Linked DNA regions of Homo sapiens: all the other regions are linked to region 1. The links come from fine-mapping of genetic effects on gene expression. A gene starts in region 1. Each other region holds a variant in brackets. All regions are shown on one strand. Distances are between the middles of the regions. Region 1 holds the start of ARHGAP27 (Rho GTPase activating protein 27). Region 2 has its middle 30 kb from the start of LINC02210. Region 3 overlaps ARHGAP27 (Rho GTPase activating protein 27).

Region 1 (8,174 bases):
GGGAATTGCTGATGAGGGACTGCGGGCGTGCACCCCTCACGTTTCGCGGTTGGGGAGAGGGAGCTCATCCGAAGTCTTCGGACAGAGGTGGGCGTCGTGCCCGACGCTGAGCGGAGCGGGTCTCCTTGCGCCCCGGCTCCGTGCGGGCGCGGTCCCTAGCGCGCCACCCGCCTCCGCGCCCCAGCGCCCGGGGAGGTACCTGCTCTGCGCTCTCCTCCGGCGGCGGGACGTGCAAGTCCTGGATGACCTCGTAGACGTTCTCTGAGTCGCTGCGCGCCAGAGGCCGCGGGCACACCCAGGAGCCCGCCACGCTGCAGGCCTTGAAGCTGCCGCTGCTTCCTAGGAGGCCGGCGGGAGGCGAGACGGCGGCGCAGGCCAGGTCGTTCAGGGACTGCGCGGGCCGCACGGGCGCCGCGGGCCGCAGGTACAGGCAGGCTGGCAGGCCGGGCGCCAGGCTGCTGCGCTGGGTCGCGGCGCCGCGTTGCGCAGGGCCGCACAGGGAGCTGGCTCGGCCTCCGGACTCCTCGGGGGCGCCGTCGGGGCCCGCGGTCGCCGCCGCGCTCACAAACCGGTAGTCGTAGGCGAGCGGCTCAGGGGCCGCGGGGCTCGGGTGGGGACCTGGCGGCGCGGCGGCGGCAGGGTTGCCCAGCGCGGGCAGCTCGCGCACGTACTGCGCAGGCAGGTAGAAGGGGCGGCCGCCGGGCTCACGCCGCACGTGCCACCAGTGCTCGGTGCTGCGCCGCAGCAGCCGGTAGCGCTCATTCGGCCGGATGGCCACGCGGCGCCCGTCCTTGCCGGTGTACTCGAAGGGGTGCTCCACCAGCACGTACACGTCCCCCACCACGTCCGCCGCCATCGCAGCCGCGGCGTTTTCCTGCGGGCAACAAGAAGGAGGGCCGCGGAGGTCAAGACCACCGAGCCTGGAATAGCCCCGCACTCGGGGACAGACTTGGGTTCGAGTCCCGATCCTGCACTCGCCGTTCGCCTTCGGGCCTCAGTTTTCCCATCTCTAAAATGGGAACTTGCATAAAATCACATGTAAGGCTTCCATTCTTACACTCAGTGCTGGAATTAGGACAGCCCTTCGTTCTGTGGGGTTGATTCTAAGATTTGACCCTTGCTTCAGTCCTGCGGTGGGGAGATTGTGGGTAGTCTTGGTCCAAATCGACTGCGAGGGAAGCCTTGGCTTTAAAACGAGGGGTGATTGCCCGCTCTAAGGTCGACACCACGCTTGCTTAATAGTTGACTGCGCCTTAGTTTTCCGTCAGTCAAGTAGGAAGAACACCCCATTTACTGCCGCTCCCCGGCTCTGTCCCGCCTGGAAGCCTCCCGCCCGCAGAGAATCAGCAGAGGGTCTCGTAGCACTGCCTCCCTCCAGCAGCTTGCGCCCCGACCCCCTGGTCAGAGTTGGAATGTGGGCTCTGTAGGGGGCCGAGCGAACAGCTCTACCTGGGGGCTGTCGCTGCCCCCCTTAGTCCGAGGGCCTTGCTGTAGAGGCCTCCGCTGCCAATGCAGGGGAACCGGTTCTCTCGGTTTCTCTTTCCTTCCCCAGCTGCATCACCGCAGACGTGAGCCCGAGCCCGGCCCGCCCAGCCCGGCCCGCACCGCCCCCTGCTCTCCAGCTCTCACGCCGCCCCCCGAGAAAGGCCCTGCCCCTGTGGCCTGTCCACCTGCCCTGTGACCCCTACAGTGTCCCCACGAGTGGCTCCTGGAGAATGCACTCTGAGACAGTGACTATAAGTGCGGAGTCCCAGAGCAGGGCCACCCAAAGCTCTCCGGAGTGGTGGTCATAAGCCCCGCTCCCGCCCGGGCTTCGGGGTGTCAGGGATGGGGGAGAGCCTAACTAAATCTGTCTGCGCCCCTCCACCAAAGCCATGAGTCGGTTTTCTCCGGAAGTGCATGGCCCCTCCAAACTCCCACACTGACCACACCTCTTCCTGCCCCCTAAGGTGGCCCGGACCCGGGGCCAGGAGACCGCCGCTTGCCGAGGCAGAGGAGCAGGTTCCAACGGGGGCCCCAGCAGGGCTCCTCCGCCACTTTGTCAAGCGTTCCTCGACGAGGAAAGGGTGTAAACTGAGTCACTAAGCACGCTGGGCCCCGGAGGCGGGGTCATCGAGCTGCCCGGTGCTGAACCAACAAACCCCAAGCAGGACACTCCCCCGGCGCCCCCTCCCCTTGGACCCCGCAGCGCACTCACGTCGGCTGGGCGGGCCTCAGGGAGCCCATGGGCTGGGTGGGCGGAGCCGGCGGTGGCTGCAGGTTAGGCCCCTACCATCGCCCTGGGCGGGGTTTCCAGGGGCGAGGCCGGAGAGGCTGCGCGGAACAGGAGCTGGCAAGCAGAGCGAAGAGGGACAGGGACGCTCAGGAGTGCTGTCACCGATACCCAAAGCAGCCGTGTCTGGGTGGGGCGAGGAGGAGCCTGAATGCCTCTGCTGGGGACCTTGGGGGGCATTGGGACGAGGCCCAGAGCAGAAGGCCGGCACCTGGAGCCGGGACTGCTGCGTCTGAAGGGGCACTGGCAGGTCGCGAGCGGAGCCCAAGGAGGATGGGACCGCCCCCGCTCCGCCTTCCCCCTCTATTCCCCGCCCCCCCACCCCCCACCCCCCGGGATTTGCTGTCCGGGAGTGCCTGCGTCCCTCCTGTGCGCGGCTCTGGGAATGCCGGGCTGGGGCTGGTTGTCTCGTGCGGGCGTTCCTGTTCCCGGGGAGGTCATTTGCACCCTGAATCACCCACTGCGAGCCCTTCCAACCGGATTGCAAATCCGCCCGCTCCGGGCCCACCTCTTCCCTCACCAGGGCCTTTCCCGGAGCAGCCCGGCCGGGCCTGGAAAAACTCCGAGCGGGATTCCCAGCGCAGGGACGCCCACCGGAGCTCGATGTCTCGGGCTGGATAAGAAGGGGACCGGACCTCGGTTCCTTCCCCGACCCTGGGGAAACGCAGAGAAGGGGAGGGATTGGGGAAGCCGGGAGGATCCCTGGAGCGCGACAGCGCACCAGTCGCCAGGAGGTCCCCTGCGTCCACTGCCCAGGCGACTCAAGCTACAGGGGCGTCAACGCCTGGGTCGGCGCTGGGGGCCTGGGCCTGCTTCCCTCCAGCCCCCAGATGGAGGGCAGCCCTTCGCCTACCTTCTCCTCCCCGTGGGATGCGGCCCGCGCAGCTCCCGCCCCAGCGCGGAGACAAGGGGAGCAGGCGCGCGGAGCTCCCGGGTGCGGACCCGCCACCTGCCGCACCCTTCCCTTCCCAACCCTGCCCTTTCCCCACCCCCACCCCACTTCCCACCCCCAACCCCCGCTCGGCGCCCCACTCCCGACCCTGCCTGCCCGGGCACCTCGGGGCGTCCGCTCGCCGGCTTCGCCTCCACTTGCCCCGGCAGGCGCGCGTGGGCTCGGCGTCCCGCGCTCCCTCCTCGACTGTGCGGCTCCCGCGCTGCCGGGTTTCCTGTTCAACAATATAACCAGGGAGGCACCGGCGGAGAGCGCCGGGCAGAACTTCCTCCCGGACTGGGGCTGGGCTGCGGTTGCGAGAGACAATCCCCGGTGTCCTGGCTTCCTGTCCCCTCTGGGCCGGGCCAGCGCCTGAGGAGCGAAGACGCCACCCCCTCCCCTGCCTTTCCCGGGATCCTGGGCCGCACCTGGCTGTCTCCAGGGAGAAAGAGGCTGCGGGGCTGAGATGGTGGGACTGGGGAGGGCGGGAGCCTCCCCCGCAGGTTCGCCTGGCCAGATTGCCCTCCCACCATCCCCCACCCCCTCTTGATCCTTGTGGGGAAGGAGGGCCACCCTCCAATCCGTCCACAGGGTAAGCTCAGAACAACCTCCAGGAGTCCAGCCCCAGGGCCCTCCGCCTTGGGGGTCTTCTGTTGGAGAATTTTCTGCCTCTCTGGACAAGCAGCCTCGCCCTGATCTGAGCCTGCACTCACTCCAGACATTACAAGCCACAGCCCCAGCACACCCCCTGCCCTCAGGGGCCCCAAGGAACAGTTGTGCCTGTGGACCTGGCTGTGTGTGCCAAGAGCTGGCTGATTCAGGCCAGTGTTCTGGGAGGAAGAAGGGCCCGCATCCCAGGCCATGGCCTCTCTTGACACCACCTCCTGGGGACCCAGGGTTGGGTGGGAAGCTGAATCTGGCCACCCAGATTCAGAGGAACTCCCTTACCTCTATATCTTTGTAAGATATAGTAAGTAAGGAACTCCCTTACCTCTATATCTTTGTAAGATATAGTAAGTAAGGAACTCCCTTACCTCTATATCTTTGCCTCTGCTAGGCATTGCCCACCTGTGAGTCCACACTTCCTCTGAGAATCTGTGTGTCTGAGCCTTGGTGGCACCTTGGGACCCTCCAGGGTGGGCACACAGCAGAACTCAGCACTGGTCTTTGGTGCCCGACATGCTTAGAAAATAGTGGCTGGTGCCGGGCACGGTGGCTCACGCCTATAATCCCAGCACTTTGGGAGGCCGAGGCGGGCGGATCATGAGGTCAGGAGATTGAGAAACCCTGGCTAACACGGTGAAACCCCGGCTAACACGGTGAAACCCCGTCTCTACTAAAAATATAAAACATTAGCCGGGCGTGGTGGCGGGAGCCTGTAGTCCCAGCTACTCCGGAGGCTGAGGCAGGAGAATGGTGTGAACCTGGGAGGCGGAGACTGCCGTGAGCCATGATCGTGCCACTGCACTTCAGCCTGGGCGACAGAGCAAGACTCCGTCTCAAAAAACAACAACCAAAAAAGAAAAAAAGAAAATCGTGGCTGGAGGAATCTTCTCTCCCTCCCTACCTTTTAGGTCCCTCTCCACCTGCAGCACAGCCAGGCAGTGGCTGGCAGTGGTGATGGTCTTTGCGTGGGGTCAGGCAGGTATGATGCCCCACTCTGCTGCTTGGCGGCTGGTAGGCCTTGGGAGTTCTGCCTTATCTCTGCAGCTCAGATTTCTTTCCTGTCAATGGGATAGTAACACCCACTTCACTGGATTATTGGGAAGATTAAATGAGGTCCACTAAGCAGTGCTTACCACATGCCCAGCGCACACAATATATCAGCTATTTTTTTTAAGACAGAGTCTCACTCTGTCTCCCAGGCCGAAGTGCAGCGGCACGATCTTGGCTCACTGCAACCTCCGCCTCCGGGTTCAAGTGGTTCTCCTGCCTCAGCTTCCTGAGTAGCTGGGATTACAGGCACCCGCCATCATGCCCAGTTAATTTTTGTATTTTTGTAGAGACGGGGTTTCACCATGTTGGCCAGGCTGGTCTTGAACTTCTGACCTCAGATGATCCAACCTCCTCGGCCTCCCAAAATGCTGGGATTACAGGTGTGAGCCACCATGCCGGGGTACATCAGCTATTATGACTACTTACATTATATGATAAGCTCTTGGGGGTTGGATTGGAATCTCCAAACCACCTGTCCTCCTTCAGAGAGAAGAGGAAAAGGGGAAGTCTCAGCTACTCAGGAGGCTGAGGCAGGAGAATTGCTTGAACCCGGGAAGTGGAGGTTGCAGTGAGCCAAGATCACGCCACTGCACTCCAGCCTGGGCATTGGAGTGAGACTGTATCCAAAAAAAAAAAAAAAAAAAAGGGAGGGGAGAAGGGGAAACAAGTGGCCTCAGGGGCGCTTTGCTGAGGCTGGAGAGGGCCTGAACCCACCGGCAGGGCAGCACCAGGTCACGTGCTGTGGCCCTCCTCTGGGCCTCCCTCTCCCAGTTTCTCTTCTCTTCTCCGGGCCTACCATCTACTGTCCTGGAGGGAGGTGAAGCCCTTGGGGGAAGCTGGGGCACCTAGATTGGCAGAGGGTGCCACCTTGTAATCTGAAAGGGGCCTTTAAGGACAGGAAATCTCAGACCTGAATGTTGTCTGTTTCCATCCCATTTTACTGCAACCTGATTTCCCTGAGAATTAAGTCTGTTTCCTGCTCCTGTTCTTAAAATGGACAGTGGTGTGGGCCTCCCCTTGGAGGGGTCCCCTGGGCTTCTCCTGGAACTTCTGAGGAAGGTCAGCAGCCAAGTAAAAGTCATTTTGAGCCCTAAAACCATGAGCCCTGAATCGGGGGATCCACTTAAATAACCCTTCTTTCCTGAGCCCCATCTCTCCTTTATTTCTCCTCTGAGAAATGTCCCCTGTATCCTGAGGTTTCACATGATCCAGTGTCAAGGGTCTGTGTTTTGACATTTAAGTCACAGGAAAAGAAGCCACCGGCGTGGGATCAGCTTGAGTTGTTATACAAGTGTGGGTACACCTCCCCAGAGACCCTGAGATCCTACCCCAGGAAGAGCCTGACTGCTGGGCTTGGCAAGGTGGTTTTCTTACTCTCTTCTCCCTGCCCACTCCTGGCATGCAAGCCCTCTGCCTACAAGTGTTTGCCACGGACCTCCCAAGCCTTCCCCCGTGCCAGGGACTAACATGAGGGTAGGGGACCCTGACAGATGGTAACAGATGGCTGGTGGTCTCCCCCCTGGCCGTGGCAGTGTTAGAATTCAGAAGCCAGACCAGTGATGAGAAAGATCAGGTCTTTACTGCAAAATCATTCAAAACTCACACGGCAGCAATTCCTTCAATACATTGCAAAGACTCCTCAGGGCCAGAGCCCTGCTCACTAGGAACAGTGTATTGCATAAAATAACATTTTAAAAATAGTGTGGGCACTACCTTTCTGAGGGAGGGGAGGCGGGAAGAGTCAATGCATCTGAAAGCACTGGCAGCTTCTGGGGAACGGGCCCCCCAGGGCCTCAAACCTGCTGCCTCCGAGGGCACCTTCGGGGAGAATCCTCACAGGCCCAAGCCCTCCCCAGGCCAGGCTCCTGCCCACTCAGGGATGGGGCAATGAGGGCTCTGACTAGGCTGGGCTTGTGGTGGAGCGTTAATGTGGGCCATGGCGGTGCATAACCCAGCTCCTGGCTTAGGAGGCATTGGCGTCTGGGCACAGGTGTGTGCCATGACCGGGAGAAGCTGTGCGCAGCCTCCACCTGCCTGCCACCGTTGCCTCTGTTCTGCTGCACAGGCATCCAGCTCCAAGGCTGGGTGGGTGACTCAGCAGCTAATCGCCCCCAGGGAAGGGTGGGGGTGGGCTCATCTCTGACAGTGACATGCGGCTCTCCACCTGAGGCCTGACTCCAAGCTGAGCGCAGGTAAGACAGCTAGGACTGAGGGCCTGCTAGGTCCAGGAGAGGTGGGGGAAGGCGACAGAGAGACCAGCAAACCCACATTTCCCCGAAGCCTGGAGGGTCTGACCATCACTTTGAAAACAATTCCAGACTCCCACCCCAGCCCCAAGGCCCCTTCAAAGGCAGTCCTGCTCCGGGGAACTTCTTCAGTCTCCAGTGTCCCGGCTGGGCAAGTTCAGTGATGCTTTGGGAATTCATGGCTTTGTGAGGTGGTGGCTGCATCCACAGGGCAGTTCCCCCGCACGCCCTGCACAGCTTAGGACCAGGTCACTTCTCCACAGTGCAGGGCGTGGCTGCCTGCCCTCTCTGGGGTCCTGCCTATCTGTGCCCTGGCAGGGGTCAGTCAGGCAGAGAGTGTGACCCCGGGCACCCACCAAGGTGGGCCTGGAGCATCTGCAGCAGCGCCCCTGTCTGTAGAGGGGTGAGGAGCGCACGGGGATCGGGGGTGGGCAAGACGGCGACCCTCCATAAACCGAGGAGGGCTCAAAGTGCTGACAGTGCTGGTTTCCAGTCATTTCTCCTTCTCCTAATGGGGCCAAGGCCCCAGGCTAGAGAAGAGCTAGGGGCTCTGACGCTGAGAAAGCGGTGGGCTCAGCAGGCGAGACGCACTGGGGTGGGGAGTAAAGAGGACACAGAGGAACCGGGGTCGCCAGGACTGGCCCTGCCCTGCTGAGGGGCGGTTTGGCACTGGCAGTGAGGGCCAAGGAAAGGCACTGGGTGGGCCCATAGACCCTGTCCCAGCAGTGGCCTGCCCACCAGCCACCCGCTACCTCTAAGCCAGGCCTGAGTGGCTCCTGTGCATCCGCTGGGGGTGAGAATGTCTGGATTTCATGGGTGACTCACGTAGGGTCAAGAATAAAAAAATACTTTCTGTTGAAATATGAATGGGAAAAACCCACCTTAAAAAACTAGACCTTTTAATCAGGAATGTGGAATTGAAAATGCTCCCCAAGTCCCCTTTCCACAGTGTTTGGGCAGCCCTAACGGAGGCGCCGGGACGCTGGTGAGCCAGGGCCTGGTGAGTAAA
Region 2 (8,174 bases), 160 kb after region 1:
CGGGCTACCCTGCAGTTGCTGTGCCAACGAATGAAGCTGGGCAGCTCTGTGTTCCTCACCAAGTGTTTGGGCATAGGACCTGCTGGCTGGCACCGCTTCTGGTACCAGGTGGTGATTCCTGGGCATCCGGTGCCCTTCAGCGGCCTCATCTGGGTTGTGCTGATCCTAGATGGCCGGGATGGGCATGAGGTGGCCAAGGATGCTGTGTCTGTACGGCTGCTGCAGGCACTCATTGAGTCTGGGGCCAACCTCCTGTGGTCTGCTGGGGCTGAGGCAGGTAGCATGGTTAAACAGTGACTCCATTCTCTCTCCACAGGCAGCCCGAATGGGCATGCACAGCCTGTGTCAGGCCCCAACCCAGCAGACCTGGGTGGCCACTATCTGACCCCCAAAGGTGGGGAGGGGCATGGGCCCAGGCCCATCAGCCTCCCTGCTGGGACAGGGACCTATGGCACCTGGGGGCAGCTTAGGTTTTGCTTAAGTTGTGGTGATGGGCCTTGCCCTCCCCCTCCCAGCCCAGGGTCCAACCTGACCCAGTTATCTTCCCTGGCCATTCCTTGTCCCACCCCCACCCGATCATACCTTCCCCCCTCTGCCACAGCTTAGCATGAATCTTCTTTATTGTCCTGATTTGTCCTGTTTGTTGGTTTTTATTTGTGGGGAAGGGCAGCTGAGCCAAAGGGGTCAGGAATTATGCCCTTTGCCTCCACCACATGGCATTCTGGTTTTGGTTTCTGTATAGTTTTGGGTCTTTCTATGCTGGTTGTATTTATATTAAACCCCTGGTTAGTAAAAAAAAAAAAAAAAAAAAAAAAAAGGCCGGGTGCGGTGGCTCACGCCTGTAATCCCAGCACTTTGGGAGGCTGAGGCGGGTGGATCACGAGGTCAGGAGATCGAGACCATCCTGGCTAACATGGTGAAACCCGGTCTCTACTAAAAATACAAAAAAAAAAAAAAAAATTAGCCAGGCATGGTGGCAAGCGCCTGTAGTCTCAGCTACTTGGGAGGCTGAGGCAGGAGAATGGTGTGAACCCAGGAGGCAGAGCTTGCAGTGAGCCAAGATTGCGCAACTGCACTCCAGCCTGGGTGACCGAGTGAGACTCTATCTCAAAAAAAAAAAAAAAAACAAGAATAATAGTCTCCAATCCCGTCCAGGTTGCTGCAAATGCCATTAATTCATTCCTTTTTATGACTGAGTAGTATTCCACTGTATATCTATACCACAGTTTCTTTAGCCACTCATTGATGGGCATTTGGGTTGGTTCCACATTTTTACAATTGTGAATAGTGCTACTATAAACATGTGTGTGCAAGAATCTTTTTCGGCCAGGAGCGGTGGCTCACTCCTGTAATCCCAGCACTTTGGGAGGCCAAGGTGGGTGGATCACAAGGTCAAGAGATCAAGACCATCCTGGCCAACATGGTGAAACCCCGTCTCTATTAAAAGTACAGAAATTAGCTGGGCATAGTGGCACACGCCTGTAATCCCAGCTACTTGGGAGGCTGAGGCAGGAGAATCACTTGAACCCGGGAGGCAGAGGTTGCAGTGAGCTGGGATCGTGCTGCTGCACTCCAGCCTGGCGACAGAGCGAGACTCCATCTCAAAAAAAAAAAAAAAGAATCTTTTTCATATAATGACTTAGAAAGACTGAACTCTTACCTGGGCTGTGTGTGTTCTCTCTCTTTTTTAGTTCATTCACTCTAGCTATGTGGGGAGGACATTCAGGCAGTGTGTGGAGAAGTCCAGGTAGTAAGCCAATGAAGTCTTCAACCAATATTCAGTGAGGAACTACAGCCTGCCAACAACCAACGAGTGACCTTGAATGCATATTTTCTCCCAATTGAGTCTTCAGATAAGAGTGCAGCCCCAGGCCACTGCTTGACTGAAACATCCCAAGAGAACTGAGCAGAACCACCCAGCTAAGTCCCTCCCAGATTCCTGACCCACAGAAAGTGTGATATAATAAATGTTTTTTGTTTTAAGCTGCTAAATGTTGGGGATAATTTTTTTTTTTTGACATGGGCCTCACTCTGTCGCCTAGGCTGGAGTGCAGTGGTATGATCATGGCTCATTGCAGCCTCAACCTCCAAGGCTCAAGGGATCCTCCCATCTCAGCCTCCCAAGTAGCTGGGATCACAGGTGTGTACCACCACACCTGACTTTGGTTTTTTTTTTTAAAGTAGAAACAAAGTCTTGCTTTGTTGTCCAGGCTGGTCTGGAACTCCTGGGTTCAAGTAATCCTCCATCTTCACGCTCCCAAAGTGCTGGTATTACAGGCATGAGCCACCATGCCTGGCCCAATTGTTAAATCTTTTTTAAATTTTATTATTTTTTTCTTTTTTGTTCAAAGTGTTAATTTTTTTTTTTTTTTTTTTTTTTTTGAGACAGAGTCTAACTCTGTTGCCTGGGCTAGAGTGCAGTGGCACGATCTTGGCTCACTGCAACCTCCGCCTCCCAGGTTTAGTTCAAGCAATTCTCCTGCCTCAGCCTCCCGAGTAACTGGGATTACAAACACGTGCCACCACACCCAGCTAATTTTTTGTATTTTTAGTAGAGACAGGGTTTTGCCATGTTGGCCAGTCTGGTCTTGAACTCCTGACCTCAGGTGATCCACCCTCCTCGGCCTCCCAAAGTGCTGGGATTACAGGTGTGAGCCACCATGCCCAGCCTAGTGTTAAATCTTTATAACAACATAAGTACGAGGTTGAGACTTATTACCCTGTTTTACAGATGAGTAACTGAGGCACAGAAAGGTTGAGTTACTTGGCCAAGGTTATACAACTAATAATTACAGGATACCAAAACCGCTAGCTTCTGCCAGTGCTCTTAATATAAGGTTGAAAGAAAAAAGAAAAGAGCCAATTAACATAAAACATAGCTGTTAGAAGCCTCCTTCTACAAATGGCGATGAAGTCTAAGTTGATAATCATAGCCGCCTTCTTCCACCACTTCTTCCAATCCCCTTTCGAAGGGTTCTGTGCCTCATAGGGACACTCAATACTTTATTCCATAAGACCTGACTTCTTGGTGGTCTTGTTTTTATTGGGTTGCTCTACTTTTCCATTAACCAGGTCTTAGGGTCAAGAGCCTGCTAAGATGTGTCCCCAGTGAATTTTTGGCTTTCAGACATAGCCTCCTTCCTCTACTAAGTAACAGAGCCATTTTCCTCTTGCTAATCATAGGTAAAGAGGCTAGTTCGGTGATGGTTTTAGTTAGCTCAGGCTGCTATTACATACTGGGTGGCTTAAACAACAGACATTGATTTCTCACAGTTCTGGAGGCTGGGAAGTCCCATATCAGGGTGATAGCATGATTGGGTGCTGGCAAGGGCTCTTTTCCTAGCTTGCAGATGGCTGCCTTCTTGCTATATCTTCACTTGGTGGACAAAGAGAAGAAAGGCTCTCTGGTCTCTTCTTTTTTTTTTTTTTCTTTTTGTTTTGAGACAGAGACTCTCAGATGCTCTCTCTGTCCAGGCTGGAGGCTGGAGTGCAATGACATGATCTGGGCTCACTGCAACCTCCACCTCCCGGGTTCAAGCGATTCTCCCACCTCAGCCTCCCAAGTAGCTGGGATTACAGACTTGCGCCACCACGCCCAGCTAATTTTTGTATTTTTAGTAGAGATGGCTTTTCACCATATTGCCCAGGCTGGTCTCAAACGCCTGATCTCAAGTGATCCACCCACCTTGGCCTCCCAAAGTGCTGAGATTTCAGGGGTGAGCCACTAGCCAGACCACCTGGTCTTTTCTCCCAAAGTGCTGAGATTTCAGGGGTGAGCCACTAGCCAGACCACCTGGTCTTTTCTTTTAAGACACTCATCCCATCATGGGGCACTGTCAGCCTAATTACGTCCCAAAGACCCCACCTTCTAATACCATCACATGGAGGTGAGGGCTTCAACATAAGAATTTGGGGGTCGAGGCGGGGC[G/A]CGGTGGCTCACGCCTGTAATCCCAGCACTTTGGGAGGCCGAGGCGGGCAGATCACGAGGTCAGGAGATCGAGACCATCCTGGCTAACACGGTGAAACCCCGTGTCCACTAAAAATACAAAAAATTAGCCAGGCGTGGTGGCGGGCGCCTGTAGTCCCAGCTACTCGGGAGGCTGAGGCAGGAGAATGGCGTGAACCCGGGAAGCAGAGCTTGCAGTGAGCCAAGATCATGCCACTGCACTCCAGCCTGGGTGACAGAGCAAGACTCCGTCTCAAAAAAAAAAAAAAAAAAAAACAATTTGGGGGCTGGGCGTGGTGGCTCATGCCGGTAATCCCAGCACTTTGGGAGGCTGAAGTCAGCAGATCACCTGAGGTCGGGAGTTTGAGACCAGCCTGACCAACATGGAGAAACCCCATCTCTACTAAAAATACAAAATTAGCCGGGTGTGGTGGCGTATGCCTGTAATCCCAGCTAACTCGGGAGGCTGAGGCAGGAGAATCACTTGAACCTGGGAGGTGGAGGTTGCAGTGAGCAGAGATCGCGCCACTGCACTCTAGCCTGGGCAACAAGAGCAAAACTCCATCTCAAAAAAAAAAAAGAATTTGGGGAGGATGCAAACACTTAGCCCATAATAGTAGCCGCCTTCCATCCTTATTGATTCAGCAGCATGAGGAACTTTAAATGGCCAGCTTCGGCTGGGCAAGGTGGCTCATGCTTGTAATCCAAGCACATTGGGAGGCCGAGGAAGGAAGATCACTTGAGCCCAGGAGTTCCAGAGCACTCTTGGGCAGCATACTTGCCCATAGTGTAAAAATTAGCTGGGCAGGGCTGGGCTTGATGGCTCACACCTATAATCCCAGCACTTTGGGAGGCCGAGGTGGGTGGATCACCTGAAGTCAGGAGTTTGAGACCAGCCTGGCCAATACAGTGAAACCCCACCTCTACTAAAAATACAAAAATTAGCTGGGCATAGTGGCGTGCGCCTATAATCCCAGCTACTTGGGAGGCTAAGGCAGGAGAATCGCTTGAACCCAGGAGGCAGAGGTTGCAGTGAGCTGAGATCACACCACTGCACTCCAGCCTGGGTGACAGAGACTCTGTCAGAAAACAAAACAAAACAAAAAAAAAAACAGGCGCGGTGGCTTATGTCTGCAATCCCAGCGCTTTGGGAGGCTGAGGCAGGCGGATCACAAGGTCAGGAGTTGAGACCAGCCTGGCCAACATGGTGAAACCCCGCCTCTACTAAAAAAAAAAATTGCCAGGCGCGGTGGCACATGCCTGTAATCCCAGCTACTCCGGAGGCTGAGACAGGAGAATCGCTTCAACCCAGGAGGTGGAGGTTGCAGTGAGCCAAGACCGCGCCACTGCACTCTAGCCTGGGCAACAAAATGAGACTGCGTCTCAAAAAAAAAAAAAAAAAAGAAAAAAAATTAGCTGGGCAAGGTGGCATGCGACTGTAGTACCAGCTACTCAGGAGGCTAAGGTAGGAGGATCTCTTGAGCCTGGGAGCCTGGGAAACAAGAGTGAGATTCTGTCTCAAAATAAATAAATAAATAAATAAATAAATAGATAGATAAATAAATACATACAATAAATGGCCAGCCTCGGCTTCCAGTTGAATAAAACCATAATAGTATTTCCTGATCTACACATTTCTTCCTTTGGCACTAGGACCTCTGGACCCACTGAGTCCCGGGTCCCTGGCAAGGAAAGCAAAAATTCTTCATGTGAATTATTAGGGGCCACAGTGGGAGGAGCCACTCCCATCTCCTCTCCTCGGTTCCTGGACTCATTCTAGCATGGTCTAAGTCTAGGAACGGCAGTGCTAGCAGAAGTCCCGCAGGCAAGGGAGGCAAATCCACACCCAGAACACAGGTCTGTCGTTGTGAGGATGAGGCACTGTCCTTACACCCCAGTCTGGTCCTACAAAAAAGGATGGCCTCTCAGGGTGCAACCTTCACCTTGGAGCAGCGCCCTCTGCTGGCCGCCTCTAAGATCTGTGGCTACTTGCATCCCCCTTCTAATCTTTCCCTACCTCTGTTGGTTCAAATCATCTCTCAGTTTATTAATCCTTGGAAAGAATTACATAGCGGTTATTCACAGCTTGTAAATTACAATAGAAAGGTTCCTTTCAAATGGTAGAGTTGCACTAAAGAGGAAATTGGGTTTATAAGAAAATGGAGGCAAAGAACTTAAGTTTTAAGAAAAAGCACTTCAAAACAGAAGGGCAAATGGAAAAGGGGGATATAAAACAAACCAATAAAAATACCATCTGAGGGTGTTACTGTCCAAAATTAAAGAATAAGATGCATCACTAAGCCCTTTGCACTCGTGTTGACCTCGTAAGTAAAAATTATTACTTAGAATAATAATAAGTGGTGCACACTACATTCCCTGTCCCTCTTCTAGACTTTTTTTTTGTAGAAGAATCAGAAAACAATTTACTAACCTCCCTGTTTGATATTAAAAACTCAATAGGAAGGTTTTTAATATTTTCTGTCAGTACAAGTTGAACTTGATTGTGTCAACTGAAACCCTAGAGGTTTGTGTATCAGTAGAATGCAAGAACATTGTTAAAGTTGCTTACAATCTTTTTTGTTTTCCTTTCCATTCCATTGTATCAATTTTTTGAGTAACTTTCAAATGGCTAGAAAATGGTCTTTTTGCTTTGCCCTTTTATAGCTGAAATAACCAGCTCCATTCTTTTCATGAGTAGTAAGTTGATATATTTATTTATCAGGTATCTTTCAGTTGTCACTAAATACTGTAGTTTTCTTGTGTTGTATGGAAATTATAGTTCAATTATTCTAATGTGATGGAGTGCAACGAGTCATTGTAGAACTTTTCACCTGTTAATGTTGAAGTTATACCTCTGAACTTCTGCTGTGGATATCAAGGAAATAATAAAGCGAAAACCCTAAGACATTTGAAAAAAAAAAAACCCAGCCTGGGAAACATGATGAAAACCCATCTCTACAAAAAATACAAAAATTAGCCGGGCATGGTGGCACACACCTGTATTTCCAGCTACTTGGGAGGCTGAGGCGGGAGAATCACTTAAGCCCAGGAAGTGGAGGTTGCGGTGAACTGAGATTATGCCACTGCACTCCAACGTGGGTGACAGAGCAAGATCCTGTCTGAAAAAAAAAATCAATGAATCAAAGAATGGTGACCCTAGTAAATACCTGATACTTTATTTATTTGGCTCAATGAAAATAAAAAAGAGAATTTTATGCAAAAATTTCAGACAACTGAATTTTGCCAAATGATTCCATTTACTAAGGATTCCATCTTTGGTTCTAATGTAGCATATATTCCCTGTGGAGGAAATGGATTTCTCCAAATAACTGGATCCATAGTCATGTAATGCTAGTGGGGACAATCACCCCAGCTTAGATACCATCAAATGAATTCCAACATATGTGGGCTCTCCCATTATTTGTCTTCTCACCTGCCAGCCTGCCTCTCTTGGCAATGCTAGGATTCCAGAATCAGGCCCTAAGCTCAGCAAGGGCCTCCATGAGGGCCATATTACACCCTAAGATTCCCAGATGTCTATTTGGAACCACCTTTGACTTACTCCCTTATTTTGCCCCTGAAACTGCATGGGGACAAAGAAGAAATCATAAAAACAGGGATAATGGATATGGCCCTAAGTATTTTAATGTGGCCTATCAATAGTGTCGTCATACCATCCCTGTTTACCAAGCCTTTATGGCAATTTCTTCACCTTGATACTGTTGACATTTTTGGCTGGTCATCATTTTTTTATGGGGGAATTGTCCTGTGTGTTTTAAGACGTTAAGCAGGACAGGTGAGGTGGCTCACACCTGTAATCCCAGCACTTTGGGAGGCTGAGGCGGGCTGATCACCTAAGGTTGGGAGTTTGAGACCAGCCTGACCAACATGGAGAAACCCCATCTCTACTAAAAATACAAAATTAGCCAGGCGTGATGGTGCATGCCCATAATCCCAGCTACTCGGGAGGCTGAGGCAGGAGAATCGCTTGAACCCGGCAGAGGTTGCAGTGAGGCGAGAGCGTGCCATTTCACTCCAGCCTGGGCAACAAGAGCAAAACTGTGTCTCAAAAAAAAAAAAAAAGATGTTAAGCAGCGTCCTTGACCTCTGCCCAGATATTGCCAAATGTCACTTGGGGAGCAAAATTGGCCCAGTTGAGAACCACGGGACTAAAGTAAGCAGAATTATCAGGATAAAACAGACAATTCACCTCTATCATACCAGAGTT
Region 3 (8,174 bases), 36 kb before region 1:
GGACTACGTCACCAGTGGGGTAGCCAAGCGGCAGCTGGCTGCAGGGGGTATGGGCAGTTGGCACACATGGACTACGATGTCCACATATGTGCCCGTGAGCCTCTGCTTGGGGGAGGAGGGCTCTGTGGGAGGGAAGATGAGAGGGAAGGCTGAGCCCAGGGCCTGCCCTTCTCCGGCCACCACATTTGGGCATGGAACTTGGAAAAGTCAAAGAAGTTTAAATTAGAACCTGGCCTTCCAGGTCATTATCAAGACACATTTGTCAAAGTAGGAGAATAGAACATATTTTATTTAACAGTTGTTAGCTTGATTGATAACTTTTAAATATTTAGACATATGGTATGAGGCCCCTGTGTGTACTCTTGCCCTGGCCCTGTTGGCAATGGGGTGGGCTTGGGTCAGCCTCACCCATCAGACCACAAGCTCCACCAGGGCAGGCAGCCCATGCAGTGCCCCTGCCCAGAGCACAGCACCTGGCACAGAGGAGCAGACAATAAATACCGGCTGTGAGAAACAAATGGGATAATCCAAGCCGAATGCTTGGCATGGTGCAAATGTCCAATAAATATCAGCTGTCATTGTCTGTTGAATAAATGAACAGGTGGGTTGGTGGGGCTGGGGGCCAAGAGCCACAAGCTGAGGTGGCTTGTGTCTGAGGAGGGAAGGGACCCGCTGTTCCCTGGGGTTCACGCTTCCTTTCTTGAGGTTGTGTCCTCCTTCCCCACACCCTGCAGGCCTGCCCAGCTCTTCGTGGCAAAGCGGGCCCCAGATGGGTGTACTTGTGTGTCAGAGTGCCAAGAGGGGCTGGGAGCTCCTGCTAGGGCTATGTCCCCCTCCCCTAGGACAGAACAGCTGGGACAGTTTCCCTCTTTGCCTTCAGGGGCCTCCCCAGGTCCAGACAGAACACACCCAGCTTAGTTCCTTTCTTTTCACATAGGCCCAAAGGTTGGATGGGTGGTAGCTGAAAGAACTGATTTTCCCCCTACCCAGGCTGTACTCTGGTGTGGGAGGAGCCTTTTCTGGGGAATGAGGTCACTCACTGGACCTTGAGCAAGTCACACTGCTGCTGCAGGCCTCAGCGTCCTTGTCTGTAAAATGGGATGGTGTGTGGAACTGGTGCATGCCGAGCGGCAGATGCAAGGTGTGCACTTGGTGAATGGGAAGAAGCCTTGCACAGAACACCAGTGGGTCAAGGACAGCAGAGGCCCGGGACCCCCAACAGGAAAGCAGATGAAACTGGCCCACAGCCAGCCTGTGAGAGGCTCAGGCAGGAGGTCATCCCTGAGGCCTGAGGAGGATAGCTTCAGCAGCCCACACTGAAGGCTGGGTCAGTCCTGTTTCCACAGTGGGGAAGTGATCAGAGCTGCCTCATGACTGGCACAGTGCCAGCACAGGGCCAGGGCCCACAGGGTCTCTGTGAAGGCCTCCACGAGGTGAGGGCCAGAAGCAGCCAGGAAGCCCTCCATCAAACTCCTCCTCCCAGCACCTACCATTCCAGAAAACAAACTCTCACCCCCACACACGCTATCGCACACGCACAGTAGGCGCGATGCAACAGAGAAAAAACCGAATTAACCCCCAAACAGGACGTGACGGGAAGGGAAGGGGGGATGGGGAGTTGGGAAGAAGGAATCACATTTTGCAAACTGCCCACTAGGGGTCACCGTACCCTCAGAACCGAGGGTGCAGAAGTCACACCGGCCTGCGGCTATGCGCTGGCGGAGGGTCCCAGAGAGAAGAAGGCCCGGCTGCGTGGCCTCCGCCGCCCAGCTTGTGTGGCAGGACCGCGGCCGCCGCCCCAGTCACAGGCCAGCAGTCAGTGCGGCGGGAAGATGTCCGCGCACTGCTGCAGGATGAGCTCCACCACCTGGTTCTGGAACACCATGGTCATGGGCATGCTGGTCTCTTCCACCTCGGGCCGCAGCAGCGTGGGCCCGAACACAATGGCCACGCTCTGCACCGACATGCGGTTCTGCTCGCCGTGCTCGATCACCCTGTGGCAGGGGTGGGTGGGTTCAGGGCTCCGAACTGCGAACTGCGGGGAGGCGCTGGGGGCTTCAGCCGGGACCTGCCTCCCCCTTCCCGCGCGGGCCGCCCGGCTCACCGGCAGAGGTGCTGGAAGAGCATCCGCAGAGTGTCGTGGTTGGGAGCGGGCAGCGAGCGCACCAAGTCACGCACACAGCGGCTGCGCCGGGCCTGGTCCTGCAACTCTGGGTGAGGGAAGGTTTAGAGGGAGGGAGTCGGAACGGGAGGTAGGGGGTATCGGCTGGGCGAGGGGAGCCTGCTAAAGGGGTGCCCCGCCACGCCCCTACCCCATCCGCCCCACCTGCCCCAGGTGCTCACTGATGGCCGCAATGAACTGGCGGAAGTGCGAGAAGGGGAAGAGGGGCTCGGGCAGCTCCCGAAAGAAGAGCTTCAGGGCTCCGGTGATAACGTGGACGTCCTCCCAGCGCCCGTCATCCAGGTCAAGGCGCTCATCTGTGGCGGAGGAAGGGAGGAGGACGGAAGGGAAATCAGTACCCCTTGCGCCTTCAGGCCCTGGGGCAGGGGTTGGGGACGGGCCTCACCGTGGTCCACCTTATAGCGTAGCTTCTGGATGGTGGCCAGGTTTCCACTGATGCGGTACAGCCCGTCGATGTCCAGCCCTGGGCCAGAGGGAGGCGCTGATCCCGGGTTCAGGGATGGGGATAGGGTGGGGCTACGGGTCCCTGCTATGACTCCCACTCGGGGCCTCCCGTACTTTCCCCCTGGACCCTGCGTCCATCCAGGGGTCTCCAGCCTGCGGTCCTGGCAGGAGGCCTGCGGGCACCCCAATGCCTGCCGCCCTCACCCCCGCAGCGCACGTACCGCGGGCCTCGACGGCGCGGATGCACTGCTGCACGAAGCGTGGCACCCGGCTCCTCTCGCGCTCACACAGCGCGGCCAGCGCGCAGCCGAACACCTGGTCTAGGGCAGAGGCTCATCAGCTCCTGCCCAGCCTGCGCCCCGTCCCGGTCCCGGGTCCCCGCCCCCCGCAGGCCTCGGGTACCTTTGATGTAGCCCTTCTCCCGCAGCGACTGCAGTGTGGGCCGCCTCTGGAGGAACTTGCGGAGCTTGTGCCGGACCTTGCTCAAGTCGCTCTCCAGGCCCACGGGGCCCAGGGCGGGCGCGGCTGCCGCGGGGAAAGGCAGGACTGAGTCAGGAGGCAGCGCCAGGGCAGGCCAGGCAGGCCCCAGCAACCGTCACTCCCCAGGAGAGGCCTCCTGGAGCCCCCACCCCATCCTGCCTTGCGCACACCTGCATTCGGTCGCGCGTCCTCCTCTTTCTCCTGCCAGCTTCCCAAGCGCTCGCTCGACCCGAAGTCCACTCTGCTGCTCTCGCTCTCCTCTGGGGGCAGCTCTGCGGACTGGATTCCCATAGCCTCAGAGAGGCGGGGCCTTGAGCCAGCTGCGGGTCCTTCCAGGATGGGGCAAGGGAC[C/T]CGAAATGCACTCCCAACAGGCATGGCCTGGAGACCCTCAGCGAAGAGTCCTCTCTTCCCTTAACCAGGTTAACTCTCCTTACCTCCACCAGTGAGCCTGAGAACATTCACCTCCCTTAGCTGCATGGAGCCCTTAAGGTGCAGAGACAGTCATCCTGTTCTCCCACACCCCTTCCTATCCTGGGGACTCCTACCCACCTGGTGCCTTCTTTCTCTATTTTCCTCAGCTCCTCTAACTGGGTCAGCATTCCTCAATACGTGGCTCCCAGTTCTGAGCCTGCACCTCCAGCTGTGGCCGGAGCACTGCCAACAACTGCACCAATATCACCTCTCTGGCTCTGGATTCCTACCTCTATTAATACAGCCAAAAGCTTCACTCAATGTTGGCTCATAGGGAATTAAGGGTCAAAAAGCCCCAGGTCATTTCCAGGTCAGTAGTTGTCAGAGGGCCCCTGTCCTAGCTCTACTTATGCAATTGGTGTTTTCAGCCTTAAAAAAATGGTCGACTATTGAAATCAATCCTTTAAAATTTTATCTGCTAGTTTCAGCCTGCCATTGGTTGGCTTGCAGAGTATTTATTTGGCCTTCTGCCTCCCGTGAAATGGGAACTTCCTTTAGAATGTGCCCTACCCTCACCTGGAGAGTCTTCCTGCAGGGCCAACCCCAGGGCTGGATTCACAGACTTACAGAAGGCAGTTTCTTCAGCCGCCTACCCTGCCATCCTAGCCATTAGTGGGGACTGCATTTGCATTACCCACTGGTACCTTAGAGCTCCCTGAGCCTGAGCAGAGGGCCCCACTCATAATGGCCACCCCCTCCCCACTGCCCCTAGAGGCCCTGGGCTCTGCTTACCAGCTCCTGGATGCCCTGAGCAATGGCCTTATGCCAGGTGCTGATGATGGCCTCCGAGTCGTGCTGGATCAGGTACTCAGAGCCATCTCGGCTCCGTAGCTGGAGGGACACAAGTCAGTGGGTCATCTCTGGTACCCTGGGTCTGCCCTGGGGGTTGGCCCTAGTTGGGGGTAGGTACAGAGATAGAGGTGACCTGTCCCTGCCCCCAGGCACTCAGAGCTTAATGGAGCAAGGGCCTCACCCCAGGCTAAGTCTTGGATCTCTGCCTCACGTAAAGCAGTGGCTGACAGCATCTCTGTGTTACAGATGAGCAAACTGAGGCTCAGCAAGTTTTAGCTGCTTCCTCATGGGCACACAGCTAGTGAGTGATGAGCACAGAGCTGCATGGCTCAATTGTCTGGTACACTTTCCCTCCCCCATCCTGCCTCCCTGCAAGCCACAGAACATGGCAGGCCTCATGCAGAGCACTGGCCTGCAAACTAAGTGAAAGAAACTTCCTATGTGAGGCCAGGCACGATGGCTCATACCTGTAATCCCAGCACTTTGGGAGGCCGAGGCGGGCAGATCATGAGGTCAGGAGTTTGAGACCAGCCTGGCCAACATGGTGAAACCCCGTCTCTACTAAAAATACAAAAATTAGCCAGGCATGGTGGCGGGCTCCTGTAATCCCAGCTACTTGGGAAGCTGAGGCAGAAGAACTGCTTGAACCCGGGAAGCGGAGGTTACCGTGAGCCGAGATCATGCCACTGCACTTCACCCTGGGCGACAGAGCAAGACTCCGTCTCAAAAAAAAAAAAACAAAACAAAACCCAGAAACTTCCTATGTTGAGACCCCTGTCTACTAGAAGCAACAGTGAATATAGGGAGAGAGGATTTGAAAGCTGATCATGGCTGATCCCAGGGAAAGAAAGGTCTCCCCTTGCCCCTCCCCATACACACACTGAGGACTCAGAAACGTTGTCCCACCTTCTGCAGCCAGGAGTCCCCACCACCTCCCACACTCCAGCCTGGGCAACACATCTTCTGTTAGCCCGCTTCATCATGAAGCATAAATTAAACAGAACACCAGAGGGAAACTTGCCACCATAGGACTGACGCTCAAAGCCCTTTCTGAGTTGGATGGCAGCTTAGTTGGATTCCTTATCAGCCTCTGGCTCTGAGGACCCAGTGTTCCAGGTTAATGTGAATGTTTGGCGGCAACAGCTCACACCAACCCTGCCCTTTTGGTTCAGCGAGAGTCAGAGACAACAGAAACTGTCTCAGACCCCAGGACACAACTTCTAGAATTGGATTGGACTATCTTTGCTGTCCTTTTAAACTTATACTTGAAGACTATTTAAACTGCTTTTTAAAATGAAATGAGGCTGGGCGCAGTGGCTCATGCCTGTAATCCCAGCACTTTGGGAGGCTGAGGCGGGTGGATCATGAGGTCAGGAGATGGAGACCATTCTGGCTAACACAGTGAAACCCTGCCACTACTAAAAATGCAAAAAATTAGCTGGGCCTGGTGGCACGCACCTGTAGTCCCAGCTACTCGGGAGGCTGAGGCAGGAGAATCGCTTGAACCCGGGAGGCAGAGATTGCAGTGAGCCGAGATCGCACCACTGCACTCCAGCCAGGGCAACAGAGCAACACTCTGTCTCAAAGAAAAGAAAAGAAAAGAAAAGAAAAGAAAATGGCATATCTCATCCCCTAGCCCTCCCCTGCAAAGGACAGAGAACCTTCAAGAGGCAGATAACACAGCCTCACTCTAATCAAAGCAGACAAGAGCCCTGCTCAAGATTATCCCAGAGAATGGCTTGACAACACTTCTAAAACAACAGCCATGATTTTTGGCAGCTCTCTCAAAACATAATCAGTTCATATTTGCAAGTTTCATATAGAGGGCAAAGCTGTATCATTACATAGCAATGTATTTCACAAAATATTCACCCCCAGCCAGGCACAACGGCTCATGCCCATAATCCTAGTGCTTTGGAAGGGCAAGGTGGGAGGAGTCCTTGAGACCAGGAGTTCAATCCTGGGCAATATAGTGAGACCCTATATCTAGAAAAATTTTTACAAATTAGCCAGACATGCTAGTGTGCACCTGTACTTCCAGCTACTGGGGAGGCTGAAGTGACAGCATCACTTCAGTCCAGGAGTTGGAAGCTGCAGTGAGCTACGATCAAGCCACTGCACTCCAGCCTGGGCAACACAGTAAGACCCTATCTCTAAGAACAAACAAATAAACAAAACATTTATCCTGCTGACCGCACAGGCAAATGCTAGCAGCTTTTGGCGGACTGTTGCTGAAGTTTTCTGTAACTCGGGGTGACTAGAAAGACCTGCTGTGAAAATTTCCTGGGCCCAACAAAGCCATCCATCCTCAATGATATAAAATTTGGGGCTGTCTCTTGAGGAAAACCCTGGAGCTGCCTACAGGCCGCCCTGCATGGAGGGAGGATGGCCAGCAGTCAACCAGGAGGCAGGGGCTTGTGATTTCCATTCAGGCCTGCCCACCTTCCCACTGGCCTGAGCAGCACCTGCCTTCCAGTCCTTGCCAGCAAAGACAACTCAAAAAGCCCTATTCTGAAACTTTCATCAAAAGTCCATCAGTGATGATCTTCATTGAGAACTGTTTGAAGGATATACCTATCCCTCAAAGTCAGGGGAGAAACATGACTAGCACAGGTGATGTCTCAGACCGGGCATGGTGGCTCACACCTGTAATCCCAGCACTTTGGGAGGCCAAGGCAGGTAAATCACCTGAGGCCAGTAGATTGAGACCATCCTGGCCAACATGGTAAAACCCTGTCTTTACTAAATACAAAAAAATTAGCCGGGTATGGTGGCAGGCGCCTGTAGTCCCAGCTACTCGGGACGCTGAGGCAGGAGACTCACTTGAATCCGAGAGGCAGAGGTTGCAGTGAGCCAAGATTGCACCACTGCACTTCAGCCTGGGCAACAGAGTGAGACTCTGGATAATAATCATAATCATAATCATAATCATAATCATAATAGTGATGTCTCTCCTCAATTTAACACCATAGCAGATATTGTTAGTTGATCACAGAACTCTATCCTGCCAAGCCCAGAGAAGCCTTCAGAATTCTTCTCAAGAAGGCTCCAGGCTAGGCACAGTGGCTCACACCTGTAATCTCAACCCTTTGGGAGGCCAAGGCTGGAGGATCACTTGAGGCCATGAGTTTGAGACCTGCCTGGGCAACATAGTGAGCCCCCATCTCTATAAAAACTAAAATTAGCCAGATGTGATGGAACGCGCCTGTAGTCCTAGCTACTCGGAAGCCTTAGGTGGGAAGATCGCTTGAGCCCAGGGGCTTGTGGTTTCAGTGAGCTCTGACCGTGCCACTGCACTTCAGCCTGGGCAACAGAGCAAGACCTTGTCTCTAAAAACAGAAACAAAAAATAAAAACAAAAACAAAACCCCACAAGACTCCAGACCTACTCATCAGAGTAGCTCATGAGATGAAACCAGTTTTCCAACTTTGCTTTATAGATATCCTGGCTCTAGAACTGAATGGAGCTTGGTGAATAATCAGGAAACTACACTCTCAGGTTCCTTGCAGAACTGTTTTTTCTGAGCTTAGACATGAGGTCATGCTCTTGGCCTTCATCATAATGATGCTACCTGAAGCAGTCCCGGATCCTGAATTAAACCTTCCTGGAGCTGTTTTGCAGGGTACCTGGCATGTGCTTCTAGATCCCATGTTCATGGAGCTACATACAAGAAATTTAAGAGTGAAGGGTTAGGAAAAAGCTTTGATTCCCTCAACATCTGGGTGGGTTTTATTATTTGTTCAACAACAAAGAGACATGCACCTGATAGCCCTTCTCTTTTCACCTCACCTAGCAGGAAAGTCGG

The links.
Region 2: its variant is fine-mapped to the expression of ARHGAP27 in whole blood (TOPMed, PIP above 0.99).
Region 3: its variant is fine-mapped to the expression of ARHGAP27 in whole blood (TOPMed, PIP above 0.99).

Annotation. Positions count from the first base shown.
Region 1 is chr17:45,429,424-45,437,597 of GRCh38, forward strand. ARHGAP27 (Rho GTPase activating protein 27) reads right to left here and starts at 3,447. Exons shown (of 20, transcript NM_001282290.2): 1 at 3,329-3,447; 2 at 2,793-2,926; 3 at 2,198-2,329; 4 at 200-874. The coding sequence starts at 856. It overlaps PLEKHM1 (pleckstrin homology and RUN domain containing M1), which reads right to left. Exons shown (of 12, transcript NM_014798.3): 12 at 6,477-8,174. RefSeq lists enhancers at 231-731, 732-1,232, 6,416-7,069.
Region 2 is chr17:45,586,633-45,594,806 of GRCh38, forward strand. It overlaps the pseudogene DND1P1. Among named protein-coding and RNA genes, the nearest start is that of LINC02210, 30 kb to the right of the region's middle. The variant G/A (reference allele first, on the strand shown) is at 3,929.
Region 3 is chr17:45,393,640-45,401,813 of GRCh38, forward strand. It overlaps ARHGAP27 (Rho GTPase activating protein 27), which reads right to left. Exons shown (of 20, transcript NM_001282290.2): 13 at 4,310-4,408; 14 at 3,277-3,385; 15 at 3,029-3,151; 16 at 2,848-2,946; 17 at 2,568-2,645; 18 at 2,344-2,478; 19 at 2,105-2,210; 20 at 269-1,994. The coding sequence ends at 1,817. Among named protein-coding and RNA genes, the nearest start is that of ARHGAP27, 35 kb to the right of the region's middle. RefSeq lists an enhancer at 822-1,481 and a silencer at 2,113-2,270. The variant C/T (reference allele first, on the strand shown) is at 3,458.